Homo sapiens: one gene and its partner. The protein of the gene in region 1 purifies or fractionates together with the protein of each later gene. This does not show direct contact. Each region holds a gene or a part of one and is shown on either strand. Other genes may lie near its edges.

Region 1 (5,167 bases):
GGTTGCAGTGAGCTGTGACTATACTACTGCACTCCAGCCTGGGCAACACAGCCAGACCTTTCTCTCAAAAGGGACAAATCAAAACAAAACCAAAACCAAAGCAGGTTCTCAGCTCTCCTGAGGCTTCCTACCCCCAAAGCAAAAGTACCCACCTCAGAGCCACCTCAGGACCACCGGCTTATGACATTAGGCTGCCTCCTGGAATGGCTTGGAGTGCCAGTCACCCCTTGCTGCAGCTTTGACAAGTTCATACCAACATGTCCCAAGAATAGCTTCAAGCCCAAGGTGACAGCTAAGACCAGGCAGAAGCAGTGCTCTGATCACTGCCCTACTGGGAGGGCCCAGTCATGACTGGCCTTCTGGCCTCTAGCATCTGGACAGAGCTGCCTGCCTGCTTGCCTTGGAGAAGTGGGCCTGGAAGCTCTCTCCTCCCCACTCCCATGTCTAGAGTCAAATCCATGGGGGCCAGAGATATAAGATTCTTTGCTAGCCTAGAAGTAAGGTGGGTCCAGCCAGACTGACCTTCATCTAAGAGTTTCCATGTTGGTTCCCATGGAGGTGATAGATTATAGTTGTCTAAGGACATGAACCCTGCCCTGTTTACAGTAGAGACACAGTAGTGCTTGCTGGACTATGCTATGTGAGTGCACGGGGCGGGTGGTATACAGTCGTCCCCACCCGACACAGTCAGTACTAATTCTGACCTTCCATCTGACCACCACACCACGACCAGATATTGCTTTCTTCTTTTATTCGGAAGCAGACACAGGGTGGGAGGCAGTGCGACACCTCCTGGTGAGAACCAGGATAACAGCAGTCAGAGTCAGGGACACCACCACAGCCAGGCCTACGCCCAGCAGCACCACTGAGGTGTCAGAAGGCAAAGCCCACTGCTCTACTTCATGGTCACCCCTCCTGTCCAGGAAGATCAGTGGCCCCACGGTGACATCTGCTTCTTCTGTCACTGTGAAAGGAGAACACACAACCAAGGGTTATCTTAGTCCCTAACCGGGAACTGGGTTGGAGGTTTTATTCTGCCTCAGTGGGCTAAACTAATATGTTGTCTTTTTTGTGTGGGCTAATAAACAGTTTCTAGACAAAAAAAACACAGCTTTCTCGGCCAGGTGTGATGGCTAATGCCTGTAATCCCAGCACTTTGGGAGGCTGAGGCAGGCAGATCACCTGAGGTCAGGTGTTTGAGACCAGCCTGGCCAACACGGCAAGACCCGTCTCTACTGAAAATAAAAAAGTTAACTGGGCATGGTGGCACATGCCTGTAGTCTCAGCTACTTGGGAGGCTGAGGCAGGAGAATAGCTTGAACCTGGGAGGTAGAGGTTTCAGTGAGCAGAGATCGTGCCATTGCTCTCCAGCCTGGAGGACAGAGCTAGACACCATCTTGGTGCAGGGGAGGGGGAAGAAAAAAGAAAAAGACAGCTTTCTCATACGGAGAAAGCAGGTCACCCAAGAGGGATTCCCTAGTACATCATCTTTTTTGTAGAGACAGGGTCTTGCTATGTTGCCCAGGCTGGTCGAGAACTCATGGGGCTCAAGCGATTTCCCTGGCCTCAGCCTCCCCAAGTGCTAGGATTATAGGCACAACCCACTGTTCTGGCCAGATTATTATTTTTTTTTTGAGAGACAGTTTTACTCTTGTTGCCCAGGCTGGAGTACAATGGTGCAATCTCGGCTCACTGCAACCTCTGCCTCCCAGATTCAAGTGATTCTCCTGCCTCAGCCTCCCAAGTAGCTGGGATTACAGGCATGTACCACCACGCCCAGCTAATTTTTTATTTTTAGTAGAGATGGGGTTTCTCCATGTTGGTCAGGCTGGTCTCGAACTCCTGACCTCAGGTGACCTGCCCGCCTTGGCCTCCCGAAGTGCTGGGATTACAGGCCTGAGCCACTATGCCAAGCCAGATTATCTTAACAACTGCTATATTTCCCCTACATGCCTAATTATGTCTCAGTAGAAGCCTAGGATGACAGCAGATCTCCCTGGCTGCCACCGAGGTGGAAGGCTGAGAGCCCCTCCTGCTTAACCCCAAGATTTGTGTTAGGGAAAGGTAGCTGCAGGCCTAGGTACAAACAGTTTTAATGGAGGACAAGGGAAAATACCATCACCCTGAAATGACAGCAGGTACCCTCAACTGAGTAAGGGACAATGAACAGCCTCTTGGCCATTCTGTGACATACCATGCCTGCGGTTACGGGAAGCAGACCTGGACCACTGGCTCATGACATGAGGCTGCCTCCTGGAATGGCTTGGAGTGCCACAGTCACCTTTGTTACAGCATTGACAGATGTCAGCCGAGCCTTCCACTGGGAACCAGCTGAGATGAAAGAGAAGCAGCTTAGATTTTTGTTGCCTGCAGGAAGCAGTTTGCTGATAATATATTGGGGGAAATAGACAAGGGGTCGCCGATTCAGTTTCTACTCCAGTCACGGAGCACCTGTCCTCCTCACCTGTTGGAAGGCTTGCTGAAGGAACAGGCCTTGTTGAGTTCATCTGGGTCCTGCTCAGCTAGGGTGACCTTCAGGTGGCAGGTGATGTATATCTGCAAGGAATAACAGCTATTTCCAGGCCGAGTTCCAGGCTGTGCCTGGGAGTTTAACACACCAGTTCTCTTATAACCCTCAACCCTTTAAAGAGTGAGAAGGGGCCGGGTGCATTGGCACACACCTATAATCCCAGCACTTTGGGAGCCCAAGGCGGGTAGATCACCTGAGGTCAGGAGTTCGAGACCAACCTGGCCAACATGGTGAAACCCCATCGCTACTAAAAATACAAAGTTAGCTGGGCGTGGTGGTGGGTACCTGTAGTCCCAGCTACCTGGAAGGCTGAGGCAGGAGAATCACTGGAACCTGGGAGGCAGAAGTTGCAGTGAGCCGAGATCATGCCACTGCACCCCAGCCTGGCTGACAGAGTGAGACTGTCTCATAAAATAAACAGGGGGAAGGAAGAGCCTCATCTCTAAGATGGTGTAAAGGTTCACTTACCCAATGTTAGAGCAAGTAGCAACTAGTTTTAGACTGGAATCCACCACTTATTCCCCTGATCTTTTCCAAACTTACCCAATCATTGAGCATGCTTGACCCTGGGCTTCTGAGACAGGGCCTGTCACCCAGGCTGGAGTACAGTGGTATGATGATGCCTCACTATAGCCTTGACCTCCTGGGCTCAAGGGATCCTCCCACCTCAGCCTCATGAGCAGCTGGAATTACGGGTACAAGCCACTACACCTGGCTAATTTTGGATTTTTTGCAGAGATGAGGTTTTGCCATGTTGCCCAAGCTGGCCTCAAACTCCTGGGCTCAAGTGATCTGTCCGCCTCAGCCTCCCAAAGTACTGGGATTACAGGTGCCAGCTATCCGTGCCTGGCCAGTCCTGGGCTTAACTCAGCATTGCTAAACCCGCGCCCATCCCCAGGTGACCGAGGTGAGTGGTAGACACCTTAATAGCTAGCAGCTTAGCTGGGCTTCTGACGCTGCCACCTGCCACTTGACTAGTTGACAAGCTACTTTTCTTCAGGGATGTAGTCACTGTATTGCCAGCTAAGGCAAGACCAAGTTGTTTCTGGGACCTGAGGTCCTTGGGCACATAAAGAAGCCTTTTGGACTTGCTTCTGTGGAGTTTCCATTTCAGACTTAAGAGGTTTTTTTTTTTTTTTTTTTTGAGGTGGAGTCTTGCTGTTGCCTAGGCTGGAGTGCAATGGCACGATCTCAGCTCACTGCAACCTCTGCCTCCTAGGTTCAAGCAATTCTCCTGCCTCAGCCTCCCAAGTAGCTGGGATTACAGGCACTTGCCATAATGCCTCGCTAATTTTTTTGTATTTTTAGTAGAGACAGGGTTTCACCATCTTGGCCAGGCTGGTCTTGAACTCCTGACCTTGTGATCCACCTGCCTTGGCCTCCCAAAGTGCTGGGATTACAGGCGTGAGCCACTGCGCCCGGCCAGACTTGAGTTTGATGGCTCACTCTTTGGGCAAGCTTCCCTGGGCTTTTCTTCCTTGCACATACCTCTGCTATTAGTCAAGCCTACGTCAGTCTCCCTTCACCTGTAAGGGATATGACGACCAGAAGACTCACCAGGCTGATACCCTGACAGTCCTGGCCTCTGGGAAACGTTTACCCACCCTCGTTAGACAAGTACGAGGGAATGAACCCAATATGAGCTCCTGCTGGGAGCTGAAAGACCCCCCACCACCCAGGGAATAGTCAACTACCCTGTAAGCACTGCCCCGCTACCCTTTTTTTTTTTTTTTTTTTCTGAGACGGAGTCTGTCTCTAGTCCAGGCTGGAGTACACTGTAGCCACTACCTCCGAGGTTTAAGCGATTCTCTTGCCTCAGCCTCCCAAGTAGATGGGATTACGGGTACCCACCACCACACCAGGCTAGTTTTTGTATTTGTAGTAGAGATGGGGTTTCCCCATGTTGGCCAGGCTTGTCTTGAACTCCTGGCCTCAAGTGATCCACCTGCCTTGGCCTCACAAAGTGCTGGGATTATTGGCATGAGCCACCGTACCTGGCCAAGCCTTCTCATTTTAGACTGACATTCCATCCTGCTGCTGGGGCTAGGGGCCATTCTGACAGAGCCAGGGCTCAGTCTAGCCTTGGCCCGTCCCCAGGTCAGTTTCCCTTCATATTTCAGGCAGGGCTAAAATTCCTCCCTGCTCAACCTCGGGCAGAGCATGGCAATTCTGCCACCTTCCAGCAGAAGCCTCAGAGCCACAAGCCTCAGTCACCACCTAGTGGCCAAGTACACCAGCAGAGAAACTTGAAACCATGTAAATTCAGACTTTTAGAAACAAGCCAGTTTAGCAGTTGTCCAGCTGCCCATCTTAGCCACCTGCCCTGCAAGTAAGAAGCTTCCAAGGCCCTGTTGTCTATTCCACAAAGGAAATGTACTTTCATCCTTAGCTTTTTCCTAGTATGTTTTTCTGGTGCTAACTGGAGTCTAAGATCCCAGGGCAGTTCCCCTATAGCGGCCTTTTAGAAGCAGGGTCTAGGCTGGGCGTGGTGGCTCATGCCTGTAATCCCAGCACTTTGGGAGGCTGAGGTCAGTGGATCACCTGAGGTCAGGAGTTTGAGACCAGCCTGGCCAACATGGTGAAACCCCATCTCTACTAAAAAAAAAAAAAAAAATACAGAAATTAGCTGGGCATGGT
Region 2 (3,581 bases), on another chromosome or scaffold:
CGTGCAGGAGAATTGACATATTGGGATTGATAACAGGGATGGGTGTATCAGTAACAATTTACAAAGGACGTAATTCAGAAGTCATCATAAAATCTAAAATTGTAATTTCAGAAGTGTAATTCCAAGCACGTTTTAAGTCAGTACAGTTATACTTTATTATCTGCTCTTCTGTAGTCTAACTTACTTTCAATTTCTTTGTCATCAATATGTGAATACTACTTACTGGAAGGAAATCACACGTCTTTTCTCCAAAGAGTCTGTTGGCAGTTCTAAGCAAGTACTGAGTGCCAGTTCTGTTAACTTCACTGAGAAGTGACTGGAAACCTCGGTGAATATCTCCGTCTTTGTATAAACAAAGTGCCTGGGAACAGAAACCAACACTGACTTTTAACGCTGCCATTATACTCTCCCAAAGAGCTTTCTCCAAACAAACCTCTGTACTAAAAAAACCACACAGGATCCTACTTTAAAAAGGTTTGGCCTAATTGTCTAGCACAGGGTTTCTCAACGTGGGCAATGCAGCATTGACATTTGGGGCCAGGACACTTCCTTGTCTCATATAAGCATTGTAGGATTTTTGCAGCACTTCTGGCTTCCATCCACTAGATGTCAGTAGCACCTCTCAGTTATGGGATCTAAAACTCCAGGTCTTCGCAAGGGTCCCCAGGAAGGAAAAATTCACCCACCGACCCCTACCTCCCACCCACCAGGTGAGAACCACTAGTCTAGCAAATTTATTCATGCCAGCAAGGCAGTGTGCGATAATTCAGGGGGAAGGCAGAACAGAAAAAAGTAAGTAACTGGGATGAATTACAACTCGGGTAATACAAACAAAAGCAGCAATAAAACTAAAAATGTTTCATCTGCAATTTTACAGAAGTTCTCCAGACCATATTATAAATTAAATGTCAAGTCAGAGTGAGAATTAAGGTTATTCCTATATCTCTCGATCACCCCCAGTCCAAAGCCTCACTCCTCCAATCAGTTGAAAGAAACAACCACAGAAGGATGTCAACTGGGGTCCCTGGGTGCATTTTAGGAGACTGTCTATACACTCCTGATATTGGTGGCAAAATGATATCCATTTGGCAATTATCTGGGACATCTTCACCAATAGTCAGAGAACTGTTCCTAAAGCATTATCCCACACCTCGTTTGTAGATAAGGTCATACATCACCATTTTGAATCAAACAGATTATATATTCCTCAAATCACTCCAGAAGATATAAGTCCACACTTGTGTTACATTCCTCTTCTAGGATGCATAATCATGCACTAAAATAACCCACTTAACAAAAAGTTAATCTACGCACCCACATGTCTATTAAAAATATAATGTTAGCAAAAGTTTAAAATGTAACAAAATTGGAATATTTTGCTTTCTTGTGGGACAGAATTATACTTTATCCTACTTATCAAAGATGTGAATTTGCCAGACTGTATTGATGATCTGATCTAGAGAAAATAACTCTATGGCTTGACTTCTCCCATAAACATCAGAGGAGATGATCTGTCCAACACATTTCACCTTTCTACCCCTTTCTGCTCTTCTCCACTGCCGAGCTGCTCCTCCTTCTACCTCCAGCTCCACAGGCCTCAGCTAGAGCAAAAGTACAGAAAGACAGCTGTATGGAAGCACAAGGGAAACACACTGTTCTCCTTCCTTTGTGACAAGCACACATACCTGGGACATCTGGGCTGCAGTGCTTCCCTTTGCCCCCATGAAGACCATGGCCAGGGCAGAGGAGATGCTCATGGGAGAGAAGAATACGTTTCTTGAGTTGTCCTCTTCCCCCAATATTTTAAATAAGCTGATGGCAAAAGTGCCATTTGCTTCACAGAGGTCATCCATCAGAGAAGGTCTGCATCAAAGGCACAGCAGGGAAAAGCACATAAGCCAATGACTCCGGTAGCCACGCAGTCATTCATCCCCCAGTCAGTGGACGCTGAGGTGGTAGGTGGAAGAACCACCCTCCAAAGACTTCCACTCCTAATTCCCAAAACCTGTGACTACATGATCTGCCCTGGCAATAAGGACTTTGCAAATGGTATTCAGTTAAGTATTTTGAGATCTGAGATTATCCTGAGTTATCCCAGTGGGCTTAATGGAATCACGAGCGTCCTTAAAAGAGAGAGGCAGGAGGGGCAGAGTCAGAGACAGAGACATGAGGACGGAAGCAGAGGTCAGAGGGATAGGGGCCACTGATGAAGGAATGCAACCTCCTCGAGAAGCCAGAAAAGGCAAGGAACAGATTTTCTTCTAGAGACTCCAGAAAATAACATTGCTATGCTGTACCATTTTGGACTTAGGACTTCCAGAACCATAAGATAATAAATGTGTGTCATTTTTCAGCCACTAAATTTGTGGTAAAGTGTTATCACACCAATAGGAAACAAAAACACTGGTTTATTCATAAAATAGCCAATCTCAGGGCCTATGACTTGTATCCCTCTTAGCAACAGGGGCACAGACACCCTGCAACACCTGCTTACTTCCTCCCTTGGTATAGCAGCAGCCAAAAGGTCTTTGTGCGGACGGGTGTGGTGCCTCACACCTGTAATCCCAGCACTTTGGAAAGCCAAGGCAGGCAGATCACTTGAGGTCAGCAGTTCGAGACCAGCCTGGCCAACAAGGTGAAACCCCATCTCTATTGAAAATTCAAAAATTATCCAGGCATGGTGGCGGGCACCTGTAATCCCAGCTACTTGGAAGGCTGAGGCAGGAGAATCACTTGAGCCCCAGGAGGTGGAGGCTGCAGAGAGCCGAGATCACGCCACTGCACTCCAGCCTGGGCAACAGAGTGAGACTCCATCTCAGGAAAAAAAAAAAAAGATCTTGGTGCCAGGCACTGTTTTCAGCACTTTCCATTATCACCCAATAACACATTGAGGTCAGTATAGTTATTGCCCCACTTTAGAGATGAGAAGACTGAGTGAGGTTTAGTAACTCATTCCAGAACCCTCAGGTAGTCATAAACGCCTGGCACCCACAGTTTGATTCCAGAGCCTGAATTCTTAATCATTACACAAAATCCCCCTATTGCTGCTAATTATCTTTCAGTTTAATGTCTCCAATATAATCTATAAAGAATGTTCTAAAACTTATATATGTAATTCTTTATCAATAAAAACTGTATTTCTGTCATCACTTCCTGTGAAAACAGCTAGATACATTTCACCAAATTTGGAGGGTTTGTTTGAGATAGGCTGGCCTGAAATATGAGGCTACTGGAAAGACAAAAAAAAAAAAAATTACTTTTTAAAGTGACTCCAAAAAGATGCCCCATTTTCCCCAAGAGTTGCTGAAACTGGGTTACGGAGTTGCAAAGAAAGTCCATAGGCATGGATATAAAATATGAAGCCCTAATCTTGTCATCGAGGGAGCACTTTTAATTAGATGCATTGATTTTTGGATCCTCCTGGCTAAGAGGGTCTTAACATTCCCCTCAGCTTGAATTAACTTTAGACAACCTAAACTTGACTAAATAAACAAACTAAACAGGCTTCCTCCTGCCTCTAGGCCCTTTCTTCCTTTTTCTTAAAGCATTTTATTTAGAGAACTTGTCATTGTAAATTCTTT

The links. Proteins that work in one complex are often made in the same cells at the same time.
Region 2: the proteins of ZP3 (region 1) and SERPINB8 purify together in Homo sapiens (affinity purification with mass spectrometry; one large-scale study listed by BioGRID and IntAct). This does not show direct contact.

The regions. Positions count from the first base shown.
Region 1 is NC_000007.14:76,437,639-76,442,805, reverse strand, and holds the end of ZP3 (zona pellucida sperm-binding protein 3 isoform 1 precursor), read right to left. Parts: intron 2,557-5,167; coding exon 2,465-2,556; intron 2,332-2,464; coding exon 2,195-2,331; intron 965-2,194; coding exon 750-964; 3' UTR 737-749; downstream 1-736. UniProt on the Homo sapiens protein: Component of the zona pellucida, an extracellular matrix surrounding oocytes which mediates sperm binding, induction of the acrosome reaction and prevents post-fertilization polyspermy.
Region 2 is NC_000018.10:63,976,581-63,980,161, reverse strand, and holds part of SERPINB8 (serpin B8), read right to left. Parts: intron 1,864-3,581; 5' UTR 1,854-1,863; coding exon 1,686-1,853; intron 362-1,685; coding exon 224-361; intron 1-223. UniProt on the Homo sapiens protein: Has an important role in epithelial desmosome-mediated cell-cell adhesion.